Regions from separate parts of the Homo sapiens genome. Here all the other regions are linked to region 3. Evidence: fine-mapped expression QTL. A gene starts in region 3. Each other region holds a variant in brackets. All regions are shown on one strand. Distances are from middle to middle. Region 1 overlaps MED12L (mediator complex subunit 12L). Region 2 overlaps MED12L (mediator complex subunit 12L). Region 3 holds the start of P2RY13 (purinergic receptor P2Y13).

Region 1 (5,000 bases), 67 kb after region 3:
ATTTTTAGTTTCCTTTCACAACTTCATAAATTGTATTGCTGATTGTGGCACTGAGTCTTTAAAAGAATGTGGGTTTTTCCAAAAAAACAGCTTTAAAATGTTTGTTTTCATCATACACCTTGCTTTATAGAAAAGATAAAACAACTTTTGTGAGGTGCTTATGTAGAGGTTTTTTTCATTTACATGTATCAAGGACTATTTTTGGTGAATGAAGAATTTACATTTATTGTGAAGCCAGCAAATGTCGACTTTTTTTTCCCTAACTTTTAAATGCGCGTGACAAATTATAATATACAAATATGTAAAGGATTTCCTGTGGTTTCTTAAGCATCGGTATAATAGTTGCTTGTTTATTTGATTTTTAGCCTTCAAAAAAGATGTTTTGTCATTACAATCATAGTACTTGAAGTTTGCAAGCATTTCAAGATTTTAAAGTATTTTCATGCCTCTGCTATAAAACAGGCATTTTCATTTTGCCATGGTGAAAAGACTTTAATGACATGAGCTTCAGATTTGATGAAAAGTACAAAAGGATTTATATGAATGGCTTAAGAACTTGGCAAAATACATCACAAAGGCAGTATGTTTTATACAAGTAATATGTTCCTGAGGGCCTTGCCTAATTTAAAACCCATGTAATTATGAAATTATGCCAACAACTGTATGTTTTACACATTTCAATTTATGAACTGAAGACCTCCATGAAATTAAAGTAGTATAATTCACTTCTACATCACTCCCCTCATCTTTTGTAAGTTATGCAACTCAACAGGTCTATAATATTTGTGGCAGGTGGGACAGTGCATTTTTTTCTACTTTGTTCATAAAGTGAGACTTAGAAGGTGAAATTTCTGTGTTTTGATACATAAAAAGACCTGTTGCATTAACGTAGTTAGAAAGTGTTTCCTTTTGGTTGCTTTTGTAGGTGGCTCCAGATTGGACCCTGCAGGCTCCTTTGTCCCAACCAACACCAAACAAGCTCTGTCAAACATGCTACAGCGGCGCTCAGGCGCCATGATGCAGCCGCCTTCTCTTCATGCAATCACATCGCAGCAGCAGTTGATACAGATGAAGCTTCTGCAGCAGCAGCAGCAACAGCGACTTCTCAGGCAAGCCCAGACTCGGCCTTTCCAACAGGTTTGTCCAGACCCCAGCAATGGAGTCCTTTGCATTTTATTACCTCTGCTAGCTTGGGATAAGTTTGGGATATGTAGCATATTCTTTCTGTATGCATATCCCTGTATACTTGTGTGAGTGCAGGTCTATCTCTCTGTTACAGGCTTGTAAATAGTTTTCCTCCATTGTACTTTACTGTTATCATTGCTCAAATAAGAATTTGATATGTCTTAGGTTTATTAAAAGTATACCTTAAAACAAAAAGAAGGGCTGATGACTTTTGGTCAATTAGAAGAAGCAGGCCTTTTATCCTTGAGGTGACCTTCTCTGAGCCCTCATTTTTCTATTATAATTACCACCATATTCTGTACTACTTTCAGCTCTTGTGTTCATGTATTATTTTTAGACTTATTACTGTGAGGTTATGTCTCTGAAGCCCTGATGTTTCCTAGGTTTTCTCTGATAGTGCCCTGCCTTTAATTTTTGTTTCTAGTGTATATTTAATAAGGTCTAGAGCAGATAAATTATAAACAACAGTCAGGATCTGGATACATTCAATTTAATTCTTGATTTATATTTCTATTTTTGTGGCCTATAACTCAATGTTCTTCATAGAAGACAGTGATCCATGTTTAAGAAAACATCAGCACTTAGTATAAACTCATGAAACACCTATGCGTCTGTACATTAAAATAAAGTGTGAGGTGAGAATGGGGATTTCTTTTTCTAGTTTCTGTATACTTGTATTTTCTAGCTTTTCTAAAATGGTCATGCAGTATTTTGATAATAATAGCTAACACTAATAGAGCACTTACTATATGCCAAAACATTTCTAAGCACTTTAGATGTATTAGCTATCTTAAGATACCAGGGTAACTCTATGAGTTAGGTACCTTCGTGATCCTCACATGGAAATAGCGAATCTACAGGTACATCCTGCTCTAAGAATAACCATAA[T/C]ACTTTCAACATAGCAAGAAATTCAAATGCTTTAAAAAATATTCTTTGTCTTTTGGATAACTTTCTAGGCATATCTCCGTTGTGTAATTTACGGCACTTCCTGCATTTGGGCCACTTAGTGATGATTTTGGTGGATGGTGATGGCAAGGTTAGTCATTATAAGGACAAGAGAGAAGAAACCAATTGAACTGTATGATGACGCAAGCAACAGTCATCACCATGTGCTTGTCTCTTCCTGACCTCTAACAATTAATTGCTTTAGCTCCCTGAGTGTCAGAAAGGATGAGTCTAAGCTGCTGCTTGCACATAAATGATGAACATTTGATTAAAATATGAAAAAAAATTATTTAATTTGCCTAAATAAGCAACATGTTTAGAGCCATTTAAAACCTCATTGGGATTTTTAGCTCTTTTTTGGGAATCAGCAAAAATAGAGTTATACTATTGCTTCAAATCATTTTTGAGTTAAAAAATTTCACTAGAAGTTGAAAAACCATCCCACTAGAATGAATTTAGCCCTCTTTCAAAGTAATAACGCCTAGGGCCAGGCGTGGTGGCTTACGCCTCTAATCCCATCACTTTTGGAGGCTGAGGCAGGTGGATCACTTGAGGTCAGGAGTTCAAGATCAACCTGGCCAACATGGTGAAACTCTGTCTCTACTAAATACAAAAATTAGGCATGGTAGAGCATGCCACACTGTAGTCCCAGCTACTTGGGAGGCTGAGGCAGGAGAATTACTTGAACCTGGGAGGTGGAGTTTGCAGTGAGCCGAGATCACGCCACTGCACTCCAGCCCGGTCAACAGAGTGAGACTCCGTCTCAAGAAAAATAAATAAAATAATAAATAAAGTAAAGTAAAACTTGCCACTTTAATTCATTTTTTCATATCTACCTTTTTATCACAAGGCATAGTTTTTCTTATTTATAGCCCACTTTCAAACTGTTACTGCCAAATTAACTTTGAAGTACTTGTTAAGTTGTTCCTAGCACTAGGGAAAAGCCCACTGGGCCATTATGGGTAAATATACCTGTTTTTAAAAGGTTCACTTCCTGATATAAGCCATGACAAACGATTTCAGCTAGAAATTTTTTTAAAGCATTTAATTGAATAATCTACATGTAATCAAAGATATCCTTGCATATTTGGGGAAGTGTACCTTGATGACACCATTACTTTTCTTTCTCCTACCAAAAATACCTGGCTGTATCCTTTTGTACCACCGACAGTTGTACTGCTTGTACCAATGGGAATTAATTGTGATTTCATTCTTTTTCTGATTCTTTTGTGCTAACTCCATTACAGTGTTGGATTTTTTTTCTTTATTCTTCTCTTTTTAAACTTTTAAGACCAGAAATGCCATCTTCAAATAGTAAAAGCTCCACTTCATAACAGTGATTGTACAGTATTCACCTCTTCATCTCAGACTCACTTCATATTGTTTTTAACAGTTGAAACTTAACTATGGAGTCTCTGAAGGGCTTTCACAAGTAGGATATGTCTTTTTCTCTCATCATTCTTCAAGTGTTAGATAATTGAGGAAAATAGTATTCTTAAAGGAAGAGAAATGCATACATTATGCAGTCACGATGTACAGTGATCCTGTAGTACATCGAGCTAATGAGATTTGCATGTAGCATCCGTCATGGTACCTGTACTTAGGAGGTTCTGAGGAAATGTTAGTGCCTTTCCTCTCAATAGATCATGTATAAGCTATTAATATAACTGGAATTTAGCAAATATGGTCTTATGGCAGAAAAAAATTCTTCTGATAATCCTTCAAAATCTAAAGACAGAATTATATGGAATGTAAGCAATATTGATCAATTGTTTTAATATCTGTTGCTGGGCACAGTTTGCTTTTCTAGTGAGTACTGACCATTTCGTGCTATGGCAGGAAGATTTTCTCAGGTTACTCACCCACATATGATATGAATTTCTCTAGCTACATAAGGACTAATAATATAGTTACTTTTTCATTTTTTGGCTTCTTGTAGAGAAAAGTAAGTAGATATGTTTTTATTCCAGAGGTCCATTTTCTTAAATATAACAAACATATTAGAGAATTTCCATTTATATTAACCTTCAAAACTGATTTTGGAATTCAGCAGATGCTTTTATAGGCTGATGAGTTTCTCCAGGTTTTGGATGTGACTGCTTCCTACGACAGTTTTCTAGTAACCCACTGGTTACCCCCTTTTCTTATGAGGTCAGACACTGGGCTGTATACTATTTTGTATTATCCTTTCATCTGCTAAGCACACGGTACAATCTGTGAGCTGTGTATCAAATGAATAATGTAAGATTTGAACAGTTGCTTCCAGGAGCCTAAAGTTTCTTAGTAGCCTTAATCCTCAGCATTCTGATTTTTATCCACACACCCTTCTCATAGCTTTCCCTTCCAGTGCTTCCAGAAACTGACCCTTCTAGTGACGTCTGCTACAGTTGTTTTGGAAACCTAAATGGGAAAGGTAAACATAAATTCCTGAACTCAGGATATATCTAAGACCTCACAGAGTCCCCTTATCCTCTTTCTGTCTAGTGGGGGAAGTTGGCATATGCAGAAACCATCCAGCCTTCAGTGATACACAATGAAAACTAGAATTCCATAAAATAACCCTCTAGTTCCACTGCAGAGATTGTACATGAGCTTCAGTCAGTCATGGAATATTCTGTCATGGATTGTCTTATATTTCCTCAGGAATGTGTTAAGACAGTGTTTAACACAGTACCTAGACAACAAGTGCTGAATAGCATGGATATTGTTAAGTATTTTAATGAGATTATTTGATGTAATAATTGTTATAATTGAGTATATTTCCCTATAGCTTTAGTGCATATGGACATGCAGAAAGATGTTTTGGCAAGAAACCTGTTTTCATTCTTCTTGGTTGCAGTCTTCATCTAGGAAAATACAGTAGTCCTATC
Region 2 (6,720 bases), 74 kb before region 3:
CACTCAATTGTTTGAACTCTCTGTGAATATCTGTGGTTCTTGCCCCATTGCTTGGGCTTAAGATCTTTCCTCTGCCTAGAACAGCTCTCTGGAATAATTTCTCTTCTTTCACCTGGCTTATTCTGAATTTGAATTGCATTTTAAAAAATTTCAGCTATTTGTGTACTTGCTTCTCAGTCTTTATTATATCCACATGCCACCTGATCTGTTTATATCTGATATTTATGTACATGGAATCACCTTAAAAATTAAATGTTTACCCTCATCCTAAGTAAAAATAGCTTTGAAGTCACAGATTTTGATTCTTTTAACATACCTTGAAATTATTACATAACTGTGTAATTTGTCTGAGTTCTATTTAACCTGTGTGTTTATCCCTGTGGAAACATACTACTTTCAGATGCAGTTGGCCCACCCTTTCCTATGGGAGGTTATTCCTGGACCACCCATCCCCTCCCTCCCTATGCAGGATAAACTCACCTTCCTGTGTTACCAAAAAGTACTATTAATATCTCCATTCATTCATCTTTCTATCCATCTGTTTATCCAGTCACCCAACTAATAATTTATTAGTAACCTTCTGTATTAAATACTGTGGGAGGTACAACCAGGAGTAGTGCTTAACTTGTTTATACCTTGTGTTCCATTATTGGGACACTAAGCTCATGGGAGTTATTCATATCCTATTGCTCATGGTCATCGCTAAGATCTGATTTTTCATAGAAAATAATTGCAACTTCTGGCATAAATACTGATTTTTAATTGTCTGCCAGTTGTTTCTCCCAACTAGATTGGGTGAGCTGTTGAGAGCCAGGGCAGTGTCTTAATTTTGCATCTTTGGCACCTGACATTTTTATTCATTTAATTAAAGGAATATAAAAGTAAAGATGTGTTGCTTCCTTAATTTTCTCTTTCAAGTTTTACTTATACTTGTGTTTCGTAAATGATACTTCTAAACATGTTCATAAAGGCCAGAGTGAAAGTAAAAAAGTAAAAGTTAATATGTTCATTTTTATTTTTGAAGGCTTATGATGCATGCAAATAGACTGTCTTTTGTACATATTCAGTTTGCTATGCAGGAGTAGGTTTGTTCATATGTAATCTACTAACTTATCTACTAACTAGATAAGTTCTAGAACTTATCTAGAAAACCTTGAGTAAAATGTGTGTATTTTAACCAAAACTGGTATTTGGGGTTGTGTGGATCAAACCTAGTCCAATTTTATTGATTTAAAGCAATGACTGTAGTGTTAAAAGGAGCATGTACTACATTAAAATGACATAGGGAATGTGTATACATTTAGGAGAATATTTATTTTAAGGGAACTTGCCCTTAAAATAAATATTACATGTCGTGAGCTAAAGGGAGAAATTATGTTGCCTTAAACTAAAGTCCCTGTCTTTTGAGTTCAACACTCTTGGGAAATTGTAAGGAAAATGTATTAACAGAATCCACTAGCATGCAGCTAAGGACTTCTGGAGATCTGGGGTCATGACAGGCACCCTGTATAGTGATATAAATGTCAGTGTCTGAGATTTAAGAGCCTGTTCCGAGAAAAGCCAACAAATATGGAGAGTATATTCCTATAAATGAGTTAATTGAGAGGCACGTATACTGCACTCAAGTTTTGCACTGTGCCGGAAACCATTGACTGTCCCAGGGGCCTTCCGCTCTTACCCCTCACTCCAGTTTAGAGTGGAGCAACAGCAGCATAAGATACACATTTTAATATGGCTTAGATCATGTTCATTTCCAAACACACCTTCTGTTCTCCCTCCTCTGGCCTTTGTTGGGCCGTTTCCTAAGCCTGGCATGGGCCCTCTTAAATTTCAACTTTAGTGGAGCTTTCCTTTATGTTCTTACTGAGAATGAATGGTTTTCCTCTCTCTGAATTCCTATAGTGCTTAATTTAATTCTACTTAGGCCACCCCTCAGGCTTTGTACTGTATCACAGATGGTGATGGCTGTGTCTTCTGATTTTTTCTTTTTTTGTGAGGGGGTGGGTGGGTATTTTGCTGATGTTGCCCCAGTCTCATTCATGGAGTCATTTGGCTTGTCTGGGGAATGGGGTGGGGCAGGTGACTTTTTTGCAGCCTCTCTCATCCATATTGCCAGGCTGTCCAGGATTACTTTCTGGGCTTGAAACATTGTCCTTTTGCTGAGAGCAATCCATGGACACCTGACTCCTAAGACTTAGCTCCACTGAAAAAGGTCTTTCATATCCAAGAAGGTGATTTAATTTAATCAGTGAGGACCTCCACTACTTTTTTTTTCTTCTTCTAGTCCAAGGAATGGATACATTTGATATACCTTCTTTTTGTTTTGATTTTTTCTTGTTTTTTTTTTTTGTTAATTTAAACTTTTAAGATTTATCAAAGTTATGCATTTGTGTACTTTAAGAAACAATTTAAAAAAACATATAATGAAAAAAATAGAAGTCCATACCCTTTTCTTATGCCCTGGTAGCCACCTCTTTTTCCTTTTATCTATTTTTAGGTATTAGTGCCTGTATTTCTTATGTAACTGGAGGTTCTTGGCTTTTGATAGTGTCTGTTGACTTCCTTGTGTGGAAGATGAGGATTTAGCTCACTGTGCACGTTTCCCTTTACCAGATAATTATGTCCACAATTTTTGGATAAATCAGCATCTTTCATTCACGTAACTAGAGCTATATGAGTATTATTTATAGCAGAGGCTTAACATTTACGTTTGAAGGATTGCAACTCCCTAATTTCATCTAGTGACCAGGGGAAACCTTGCTGTCTTGGTCTAATGAGGGCAGGCTTCCCTCTGGGTTCTGCCTGCCCATTTGCCCATTTTCCCATTTATAATTAGTTGAGATATGTAAACATGCTATATAAATGTTAGCTGTTATTATTTCAATATTATAATTTGAACCAAACCTTATTTAATCTAGTTCTTAGCTA[T/C]ACGTGTATGTGTAAGCTTAAAAGTACTTTTGTGAACAGCTGCATTTAGAGAGAAATGTGAAGTCCAAGTGCATGTTTATGCATATGATAAAACTTTCGCAGCATAGATGCTTCTTAGCATTACAACTCAACAGGCAGAGGAGATTCGTGTTGACAAATGTGCTTGTTATTAATAACTTTGTGTTACATTTCACCGGAGAGACCTCTAGCTTACCAGTTTTAGGCCTTTTGCTTTTGGCAGGTTGCAATTATTGCTGTCTTATAAATGTCACATACATGATATATATACACACTTCCAAAACTGTGTTTTTCATTCTTGTCGGAATAGTTGAGACTTGTCTGCTACCAAAAGTCTGAGTCAGATTCTGATACTTTGCCTTGCTGCTCTTTTTTTTGTAGTTTTCCCAGAAACTTTATATTATACTTAACAATATAAATATAGTATTATACTCATAATAAGCGAGGCCTTTGCTTGTATTCATTTAAAAATGTAGAGAAGCGCTTAAAAGATAGGAACTTTCGAGTCACAAATAGGCAGGCTGAAGATTGACTTATGGAATTGATGAAGCTGTTGGGAGACCAATTTCATGTAAGAAGGAGCAATCTGAGGATAGAACTATCAGCCATATAACAGGGGATGTGAGAGGGATACAGTGACTTCCATTTGTTTGTAAAAATGCTGTTTTGGGATTTATACTAATGGGTACCCTTCATGTGTGACATGCAGTGTGACTTAAATATCTACCTTAGCTTTTGCCATAGTTCAAAAGTTGGGGGAGGGAGTTTCTAGATAATGAGCATCCAGTAGAGTAGACGGAAAGTCCACGGCAGTTAAATTGCTCAGCAGAAAAGGCCAGGGGGAGGGGGCTGGGGGTGCGGGCAGGCGGTTTGGGTATAAATGCCCACCAACTTTGGTTCTGCCATGGCTGGGGAGGAGGGTCTGTGCTGCTATGGGCCTTTTCAGACATCTCTAACTGAACACACGCGATTTTTCCTGCAGCTTCCCTTCTATAGTGGAGCTTAGAAAGTCTTGTCAAAACTGGCCCCTGAGATGAAACCTTTGGCCATCTTAAGCTAGTGTTTTATCCAGGACAAATGAAGAAAAAATACAGCGAACTTGTTTACTCCAGCATAGAGACAAAGTCAGGATTAGATTAATTGTGATTCTTTGCAGTTAATGCTACATAACGTGGCATATGGAGTTAAATTTGGATATACAAGCCAGCAGCACTGCCTTGTATAAACCAGGAGACCTCAGGCTGGTAATGTAATCTCTCTCAATCTGTTTCCCCATCTGCAAAAAGAGTCTAGTACTACCTGCACTATTAAAGTTGTTGGAAAGTTTAAATCACGTAAGGTGTATTTTCTTACTATAATGCCTAGCTCTAAGGTCAGTAAATGGTAGGGTCTCTTTTTACTATGACAGGCTAATTGTTCCTTTACAATGCTTTCAAAACTGCATGGTTCAACATATGCTAGATAGAAATACAGTGCTATGCTTTGTGTTTTTAATGAATATTAATTGTTATGGAAAGAGCCAAATTTGAGTAGGTCTTTGACCCAGCCACTGTGGTTATAGGAAGGCTCTTTTAGATACATAGCAATACATAACTCATGGAAAGTATTTTCAAATTATAAATCTAATACAAGAGGAAATAAGATCTCATATGCAGTACCCTGGTAAACTCAAACTATTACGGATGGGGCACACATGATGGAGTGCTTCTCGGAGCTTTACATTTTTGCCTCAACATGCCTAAGGTAATAGGAGATATTCTCATCTGTGCTTTACTCTGTGGTCTCAGTAAGGAAGGGATGGAGACACATCCAGGATCAACCAGAGCTGGTGGTCTTTCCCTTGGTCCCCATTGCCAGTCCCACCCTGTCTCCACAGGGAGTGTGAATGAGGATGGCTCCATCTTTCTTCCCTCTTGTCAACCACAGAAATTAGGGTTTTGCTATTTTTTTCCTAATGTAGGCAAAACATGTGGTCCTAAAGTACCTCTCCATTGCCAGAAATCACAACAGACTGCTGTCCTACAGGAAAGACAAAAGCTTATTACACTAAAGATGAGTTTCTCGTATTTTAAGATCTAAGAGATGCTAAATAATAGTAAAGGCAGGAAACATTTATTTTTCTTAGGTAAGGAGAACAAAAACTCATACAAGCAGAGCATTTTGTTAATACTTTGTTAGTTCAGCTGACTGGTTATTAATCCAGTCTGTTTTTTTTTTTTTCTTGGTGGGAAATGACAGAGGTTTTTTTTTTGTTGTTTTTTTTTTTAAATGGGTCATGGGGAAAATAGTGTTTGAATTTGCTAAATAATCTCTTGCCATTTGCCAAATCAAATATCACTTATCAAGTCCACATATGAAGTATGTATGATTTGCCAGGAGTTAGGATACTTAACCCTGTATTAGAAGCACATGGATTTGAAAACAACAGAAAAGCAGCACGATACAGCTGCTTCTGAGATACAAGAAATGGTGTAGTTTTAAAAAGAAATGCTTATGAGAGATTTTAGACATTTTTGAGCTGTTAAGTTTTCTAGAACCATTTGGAATGATTTTGAAGTGACCTCGCCTGGAAAGCATATTTATGTAGTTTCTTTCTCTGTACCACTTATTCTTCAGCTTCAGTGTAATTCTCAGTTTACTGTATGCCAGTTGGCATGTTGTAGTTTAAATATTTTCAGAACCTTTCCACTGCGTATTAATCTCTTAGACAGTTGAAACATTTGTTGACCTGTAGTCCTGTTTTTTTAAATTGTTTATGTGAGAAACAATATATCTGAATGATTAAGAGCATTGTCTCCAGAATAGATTGCCTTAGTTAGAATACCGGCTGAGTTACACATTAGCTTTGTGTCATGGGGCACATTACTTAACCTCTCTGTGCTTCAGCACCCTCATCGTTAGGAGAATCTGTACAAAAGTGATTATAATATCTACTTCAGAATACTGTTGTGAGGAATATTGTTCTGTATGCCTGGCACATAGAAGAGAAAAATAAATATTGTCTGTCATCAGTATTATTTCGTATATGGAGAACTGAAAGGAGCTTCAAGATTTGCATTGTGTGGGCTTTCATACCATCTTCAAGAGATGATTTTTTGGAGAAAACATGCTTTTGAAATTCAGTGTAAACATGGTATTTATGGAGCTATATCTCACAACAATTTTCCTCTGGCTTACATTTTAGACCACCTTTTGTTCAAGTGTCATGTGGACCACTTGGCTTAGATGAGAGTCACACAAATTTTTATATTCCAAGTTCCTCCTTCTCTCTCCCTACTACAGCCTTTGAATGGCAATTAATATTGCTGCTTCCTTCCCCACCTTCCCTCTCTAGCTTCTTTTAGGCATTTTGTAAATAGATAACATAAGAAACAATTTGTTTTGGCCACAAGTTCAATTTTTCTGGCATAAAGCTGTATTTATTTTTGATATTCCTGATTAGTAAAGGTGCAAGCCCAGTATCTATACCATTCCAATCTGTGGGTCCCTGAGTTGCTCCAAGGCATTTACAGGCAAACTCCTGGGATTCATTTTCTTCCACAGGCCCAAAGTGGGAGTTCCGATATGGTATGAGACCACTGTGAGATGGATTAGAAAGATCTGGAAGCTAGATGGGAACTAGCTCGGGCATAATCAAGTACTCTTGACCCTCACAATTGTTGCTTTCTAATATAATTTCACTAGTTCTTCCCACTTTCTTTAATTCTGTTTGTTGTCTTGTTGCTGACAAAATAATTTTTAGTACTTTCTAATGTGGTCATTGTGTATAAACCA
Region 3 (6,720 bases):
ATGGAATGAAATATTTGTATTTATGGATGACAGATTTGGTCTTGGAATTTATCTTGAAAGATCTTTCCCAAAAATTGTATACTTTAGGTGTACCCACATTAAGTAGAGATTGAAATTGTCATTAGAGGCAAAATACACAGGTTACCCCACCAGACATACCTGGCTGTTTAACAAGGGTAGCTTGGATGCAGTTATTTACATGATTATAGTCTATTTGTGATTGTGTAATGTACTCAGTAGAGGTAATATGGATTTAGTGGCATCCCTAATAGTAATGATTATTTAATTCTTTTATCAGAGAGAATGAAGATCAGACATCAAGAGTACTTTCTAAAGGTGTTTGTTATATTCACAGTTACAAATTTTACTTAACCATTATCAATAGTGCATAGCTAAAGGATTTTGTCAATAGCTTTAAAACTTTGGATTTGGCTATTCCATGATCCTCCTGTTGTCATGATCATTCACTAGTGACCCCAGGAGCACCACAATTTTCAGGCCCTACATACATGTTATAGGAGAGTGGACAGAGCTTGAGCTTTCATTTCAAGAAATTTATGTTGTCTTTGGATAATAAAAACATCAATGAGAATTGGCTTCCCTTTTGCTTCTCTAATACATAAAATAAACCAAATGGGCTTTATTTTATCAAACATTTATTGATTGCACAATGAAACAATCTCTCCTTTCAGATATATACATCAGTTACTAAAAGAGTAGATACAAAGGTCAGGAAGTAATTACAATGCAATGTGATAAGTTTAATAATATAGGTGTGACAGCATACAGAGGAGGGGGTGATTGGGTTTGAGGTGATGGTGGGATATTGGCCAGGTAATATTTCATGGACCAAGTGATGACAACATAGGGTTTCACAGATGGATAAGAGTCTTCCAAGTGTACCAGGGGGAAATATACATGTGTGGTGCCAAAACAGAGTATGGCATTTTCTGAAAGTTAGAAATTTATACAAGAGTATAAAGTTCAAGAGATGGATAAGTAGCTAGGAGGTAAGGCCAGAAAGGTAGGCAAGTTCTAGGGCCTTTGAGGCCATGGAAGAAAACGTGGGCTTCACCCTACGATGGTCGTGTTGGAGCTCGTGGCACATTTACAGAGCTTAACTACTCCTTTATGTATTTTTTCTAGAAGATGTAGACTCTTATCCATCATTTCAGAAAGCCACATTTTACTTTTTTGAATCACAGAAGGATGCAAGAAAAAATACCAAGGTAAATAAATACAAGCAGGGTCACCATCCTTTGAAAAATCTCTCAATATGGATGTTACTGATTGTGGGTCAGCAATTACGTCTTTGTATGTATCGAGAATAGCAATTCTATTTAAAACATCTGTAGACCATGGACTGTAGGTCGTATTATGGGAGATACCAAGAAAATCTGGCATGTCTGTCTCTCAAGAAGCTTTAACATTTTTAGCGGATGCAGTCAAGAATATAGCTAACTAGAAAAGGGAGATCTGCATTGAGAACCCTATCACACACCCAAACAGTAGAAGTATTTGTTTTTAATGAGGAGGGTGGGGCAGGGGGATAGGGGTTGTGGTCCAGGAAGGCATTGCTGAGTAGGTGCCATGTTTAACCATCATTAGAGTATTTGCTGGACAGAAGGAGAATTCCAAAGAATAGTTAACACAGCATTCTCACACTTGAATTGTACACACTTAAGGTGTAAGCAAAGTGGCTTAATAATGGTGCTTGTGCCTCCTATGGTATATTATTGTAATGTGAAAGAGGCTGTTTGTAATTGTAAGGAGAAAATCCTTTACCCAGGATTTCAGAGGTCTTGCTGACCCACTTCAGTTCCTCAGACTCTTCAAGTCTGCATCCCTTTCAACCCCTGGCTGCAGTTTTCAGCAATGGACTTCAAGAGTTGGGCGTTTTTTTTTTCTTTCAGCACATATCTACATTTAAGGGGCACAAAAGCAGTAGTGTTATGTGAATTGTGGAAAAGAATGTGAGAAGGTGTTTGGAGGGGAGGTTTGTAGGGATATACGTTTCTCCTTAGTCTTTTCCAAAATGTTAAAGTGAAATGCTCTTGAAATTAAAAAAAAAAAAAAAGAAAGAAAGAAATAATGACCTCTAGTGGCCATTTGTATCCTGTTGCATTCTCTTAGTAATGGTTCATTCAGCTTATGAATAGATCTATGTGGATTTAAATTTTATATAATCTTTTCTGTACACGAGGATAATAAAATGTAAGAGAGCATTTGTTCCAATCTTTTTTTCTTGGTTAAATTTGATTTCCACATTATCTACGGAAGTCTCATCAATAAATAGAAGTTAACCCTATGTACAGTTGTCAGCCTAAGGTTATGTTGTCTGTCTGACTGCTATGATTTTCTTGGCTTGATGCTGTGGTCTTTCTCCCTTGCATACATGGTAGCTTTTCTGTGAATTTTTTACATAAGAATATGTATATTAAGGGATCCATACAAATGTTAGTTGCTGCCAAAAAGAGAGTTGTTTCTTTAGCAATAAACAGTTGATTTTGCAGTCTACAGTCAGTCTTATTGTTGGTTTGACTGTGAGTATATGGAACTCTGGCAAAATGAAATGGAGCAAAACACACAAAGAAGACAGCCACGACAACAAATACTTTGCCTTCCAGCTTTTTGTTGTTTTTTCTGTCCTTACTTTTGGACTTTCTATAAGAATCATATACTTTTTTTGCAATAACCACATAAAACACAAGCATTAGGATAAAAACAGTCCAGAAAATAAACTGGCATATGTTATTTACCATTTGATGCCATTTCAGCCCCAGAGGCCCCTTTAAGGAAGCACACTTTTTCACAGACGATGGTGTTGCTTCCTTGTTGCTCAAGATCGTATTTGGCAGGGAGATGAAGAACAAAAAGAACCAGATGAAGATTGAGACCGTTTTTGCAAAAACAGGTTTTTTTAGAAAAATATTTCTCAAAGGTCTGATGATCTTGAGGAATCTGTCAAAGGCTATGAGCCCTAACAGCACGATGCCCACATACATGGTCTCATAAAATATCACCGAAGAAAAACGACACACAAAAGCTCTGAGCTGCCAGGGTGCCAGGTGTGAGTCAGAGAGGATTTTGAAAGGAAGCATGAGTGTCATTATCAAGTCGGCCACCAAAGTGTTTTTGAGGTAGATGATGAAGGTGGAGGAGCTGGGGATGTGAACAAACACCCACAGAGCCAAAGTATTCAGCAGGATGCCGGTCAAGAAAACCACTGTGTAGAGGGCTGGGAATACCAGCTGTACTATCCGAGTGTCTCTGGGGCACCGCTCAGATCTGTTGAAGCCTTGCATCACTGTGGTGTTCATTGCTTCCAGTGTCACCTGTTACCAATAAACATATATACAAACAAAAGAAAACAAAAAGCCCTTCATGATTTTCAAATGCTATTTTTTAAAAACAGACTTTATGTTTATAGCATATTAACATCCTGCATTTATCCAACACTTTCAATAGATGTGTTGAAAAGGAAAATACTGTTTTCTGGCTAGAATTTTTAAAGCATATAATACATTTTTGGTACTTTTAACAGTACCATTACTTTCACATCCTTGTGAAATCCAAATAACAGGTTCTGCCTCATTCACAGGTGCTACTGTTAGCCATAAAACAAAACACTGTTTAAGAGATAATAATACATTATTATTACTAATACATCAGATTGCTGTAAATTATGTAATTTCTTATGCTCATAAACTATGGTTTGTAGAATATTAACTTTAAAGCACCTTTTTTCCCTTAAGCATATTCTTTTATATAAGCAAGCACACTCATAATAACAAAAATTGAAATTCACCTTTGGGAGGATACTCAGTTCTCTCTGTCTTCTTATGGCGGCAGTCATTAGTTCAGCCTACAAATGAGCATGTGAAGCAAATGTTCTGCTTTCTTATAGTGGATTTCCTTCCTTATTTTTACTTATGTAATGTGACCCATTAGAACCTCTTCATATTTAGACCTTTGGGACATTTGCTAATACTCTATTTTAGTTCAAACTTTCATACTGTTAATCTGTGACTTGAATAAAGAAGCTTATTTGCAATTATCTTTAAATTTCTTCATAACTTTCTTGAAGTTTATCTTCTTGATCTGCATGTTCAGTGAACTTTTTGAGTGCCTCTTGTATATAGTGGAAAGTAGAAAGATGAAGAAAATAGTCCCAAATTACAATCAAGTAGGAGAATAAGACTACCTAAAATCAGACAGAATAATCTTCTGTATCCTTGTAAACTGGATTTTCCAGTAATTTGTGTTCAGGAAGACGGTATGTTTATTTTTGTAGGTATTTGACTTAGTCTTCTGGTTTGGGGATCTCTGAGAGTTAACATGATGTTTTCTGAGAGGTGAAGACTATTAGATCCAGATTTTTGGAGTTAGAATCCCAGTTCCACCAATTAATTGGGATTAGATTATAGATAAATGATTCAACAGCTCTGTGTCTCAATTTCCTCATCTGTGTAATGGGTTTGAAAATAGTATCTAACACACTGTGTTATTAAGAATGAATTGGTTGCCTGGAATAGTGCTTGACATATAGGAGGCACTAAAAAATGTTAGCCACTTTTAGTGGCTTTTAGTCCCATTGCCATGGGAATGAATTGCAAATCCAGATAGAGATATTATACTCTTTCACTTAGTAGAGGGCCATTTTTAGAAATCTTTTTTGTATTTGGTGTATTTCGAGTGCAGAGGACTTCAGGAATTTCATCAATCAACATTGGGCCAATATCTGTGCATTTTTTTTGCTTTAATTCTCTTCAAGTTTGAAAGATGTAATGGTGCTTTTGCATAGAGAAAGTTGTTGTCCATGGCAGAAATCTACTTGCCAGGTAGGCATAGGAAAAGCGGAAATTAGGAGATCTTACGGAGGATGTGGAGTTCATGGTGAGTTTCATTTCATGTTTCTTGCCACAAGTGTTACCATGGAGTTAGACGAGACTAGTGTTAGTTGATCACAAAGTTTTGGGTGACTTGGCTTTGAATTCTGAGAAGAAAAACTTAATATCCCCCTGGACATTTTAAAATATGAGGCAATACAGTGTCTAATAGTTTTGATTAGACTACCCAATAACGGCACAGTTTGAAAAATTTCTCTTTGACTGAAATAAATTAATCCTTGGGAGTATAGATTCAAGATTTCATTAATAGAACATACATGTATGTCTTAAACATAAATGTATATCTTTTTGTTTGCTTCAGCAGAGGAAAAAAAATCCTTTATTTCTTAAGTAGAGAAATTTAACCTACAAAATTAATTGTAAATTTTCCTATAGCCCCAAATCCATAATCTAAAGGAAGATCTGGAATAGTTTTTCTTTAAGCAAGATAAATTCTGTGCAGGATAATTTCATAATCTGAAAACTGGAAATCACTTCTTGGTCAAATTTCAAAACACTGAAGTGTGGGAAACTTTCCAAAGAGGAACTGACTTACAGTGCCTGTTTCTAGAGTTATGGAAATAGAGTCTCTTAAATGTGGTAGATGTCAAAGTGTTTGACTATAGTAAATATCCAATAGATCATTCATTTCTATGTGTTTGTGCTTCTTATGTATTAGCTGATTTTTCCTTAGTTTACAGCAGCACTATTGCCTGCTGGGGAGGCCTTTTGCCCTTGAAGACACAGCTGAGAAGCTGCTCAGCAGAATGTTTAGGCGCCAGAGTGCCTGGGCTCAATTCCTTTTTCCAATTCTTTCTTTTCTTATGACCTTAGGCAAGCTGCTTATGCCCACTATGAAATGGTTGCCTTATCTTTACAATAAAAATAAATAATAGTATTTGCTTTACAGTGTTGTTAAAAGAATAAAATGAGTGAACATTCACCAGTGCTTAGAATAATGTCTGTCATGTGGTAGGTATCATGTAGGTTTCTTGTTAAATGAAATTGAAAGAAAATTGGAATGTTGTGCATACATATGGTGATGTCTCACGAAAGGAGAGAAGAATCAAAGAAGATACAGTGAAAGATCCCAGAGGCTAGGAGCCTATCAAATGGGAATAAACTAAACATTTAAGATCCTATAGGGCTCTAAGGAAATGTAGTTAAAAATCAGTAAAGTCACACTAGCTATACTGTTTTAAGTGATTATATTATCTTATTTAATCCTTAACAATCCCCAGAGATTGGTCCCATTTTTAGAGTTGAGAAAAAAGGAAATGCAGAAGTTAAGCCATTTTCCCCATATCATGCAACCCAAATCTGCCGTAAAGTCACACAGTTGGTCTGGTTCCAGAGCCCATGCTTGGAACCTGCCTCACTCTCTTGCCTCCGATTAAGCCATAGATAGGGTGACAGTGGAATTGTTTGCCAAATTCTGGAGTTCTTGAGCTGAAAGTTCCTGATGTGTGAGAAGGAAACAATCAGCCACAATGTTTAATGGACTTGTGAAACTTTATGCCAATGTAAATTGAGTGAAAGCAGTGTGATCAGAAGGGATACAAAGAAGATAAAATGAAAAGTCACAGAAATCAGTCTCTAGCCAGATAGGAATAAACTACTATTTCCATTTGTAGTCTTATTTGGGATTTCTCAGTTGCATCAAAATTGACAGTCCAAGGCCCAGTACCATATAAATAATATGTGAAAAGATGAGGAAGTATTTGCTTTCATTTGGGATGAAAATTGAAGTAGGAACTCCTATACTTCTATACTCTTAGAAAAGACTTTTACTTCCCATCAAAGTATACCATGGTACTTTCTCAGATTATGT

Evidence for each region. PIP is the estimated chance that this variant, and not a neighbour inherited with it, causes the effect. A credible set is the group of variants that fine-mapping cannot tell apart.
Region 1: its variant is the best candidate, but not a certain one, in a credible set for the expression of P2RY13 in whole blood (TOPMed, PIP 0.58).
Region 2: its variant is the best candidate, but not a certain one, in a credible set for the expression of P2RY13 in whole blood (TOPMed, PIP 0.66).

What each region holds. Positions count from the first base shown.
Region 1 is chr3:151,393,731-151,398,730 of GRCh38, forward strand. MED12L (mediator complex subunit 12L) reads left to right here. Exons shown (of 45, transcript NM_001393769.1): 39 at 926-1,137. Among named protein-coding and RNA genes, the nearest start is that of P2RY12, 11 kb to the left of the region's middle. The variant T/C (reference allele first, on the strand shown) is at 2,074.
Region 2 is chr3:151,251,663-151,258,382 of GRCh38, forward strand. All of the region lies in intron 16 of MED12L (mediator complex subunit 12L), which reads left to right. The region is part of intron 1 of P2RY14 (purinergic receptor P2Y14); the gene reads right to left. Among named protein-coding and RNA genes, the nearest start is that of P2RY14, 24 kb to the right of the region's middle. The variant T/C (reference allele first, on the strand shown) is at 2,929.
Region 3 is chr3:151,325,673-151,332,392 of GRCh38, forward strand. P2RY13 (purinergic receptor P2Y13) reads right to left here and starts at 3,877. Exons shown (of 2, transcript NM_176894.3): 1 at 3,809-3,877; 2 at 640-3,335. The coding sequence starts at 3,856. The coding sequence ends at 2,319. All of the region lies in intron 16 of MED12L (mediator complex subunit 12L), which reads left to right.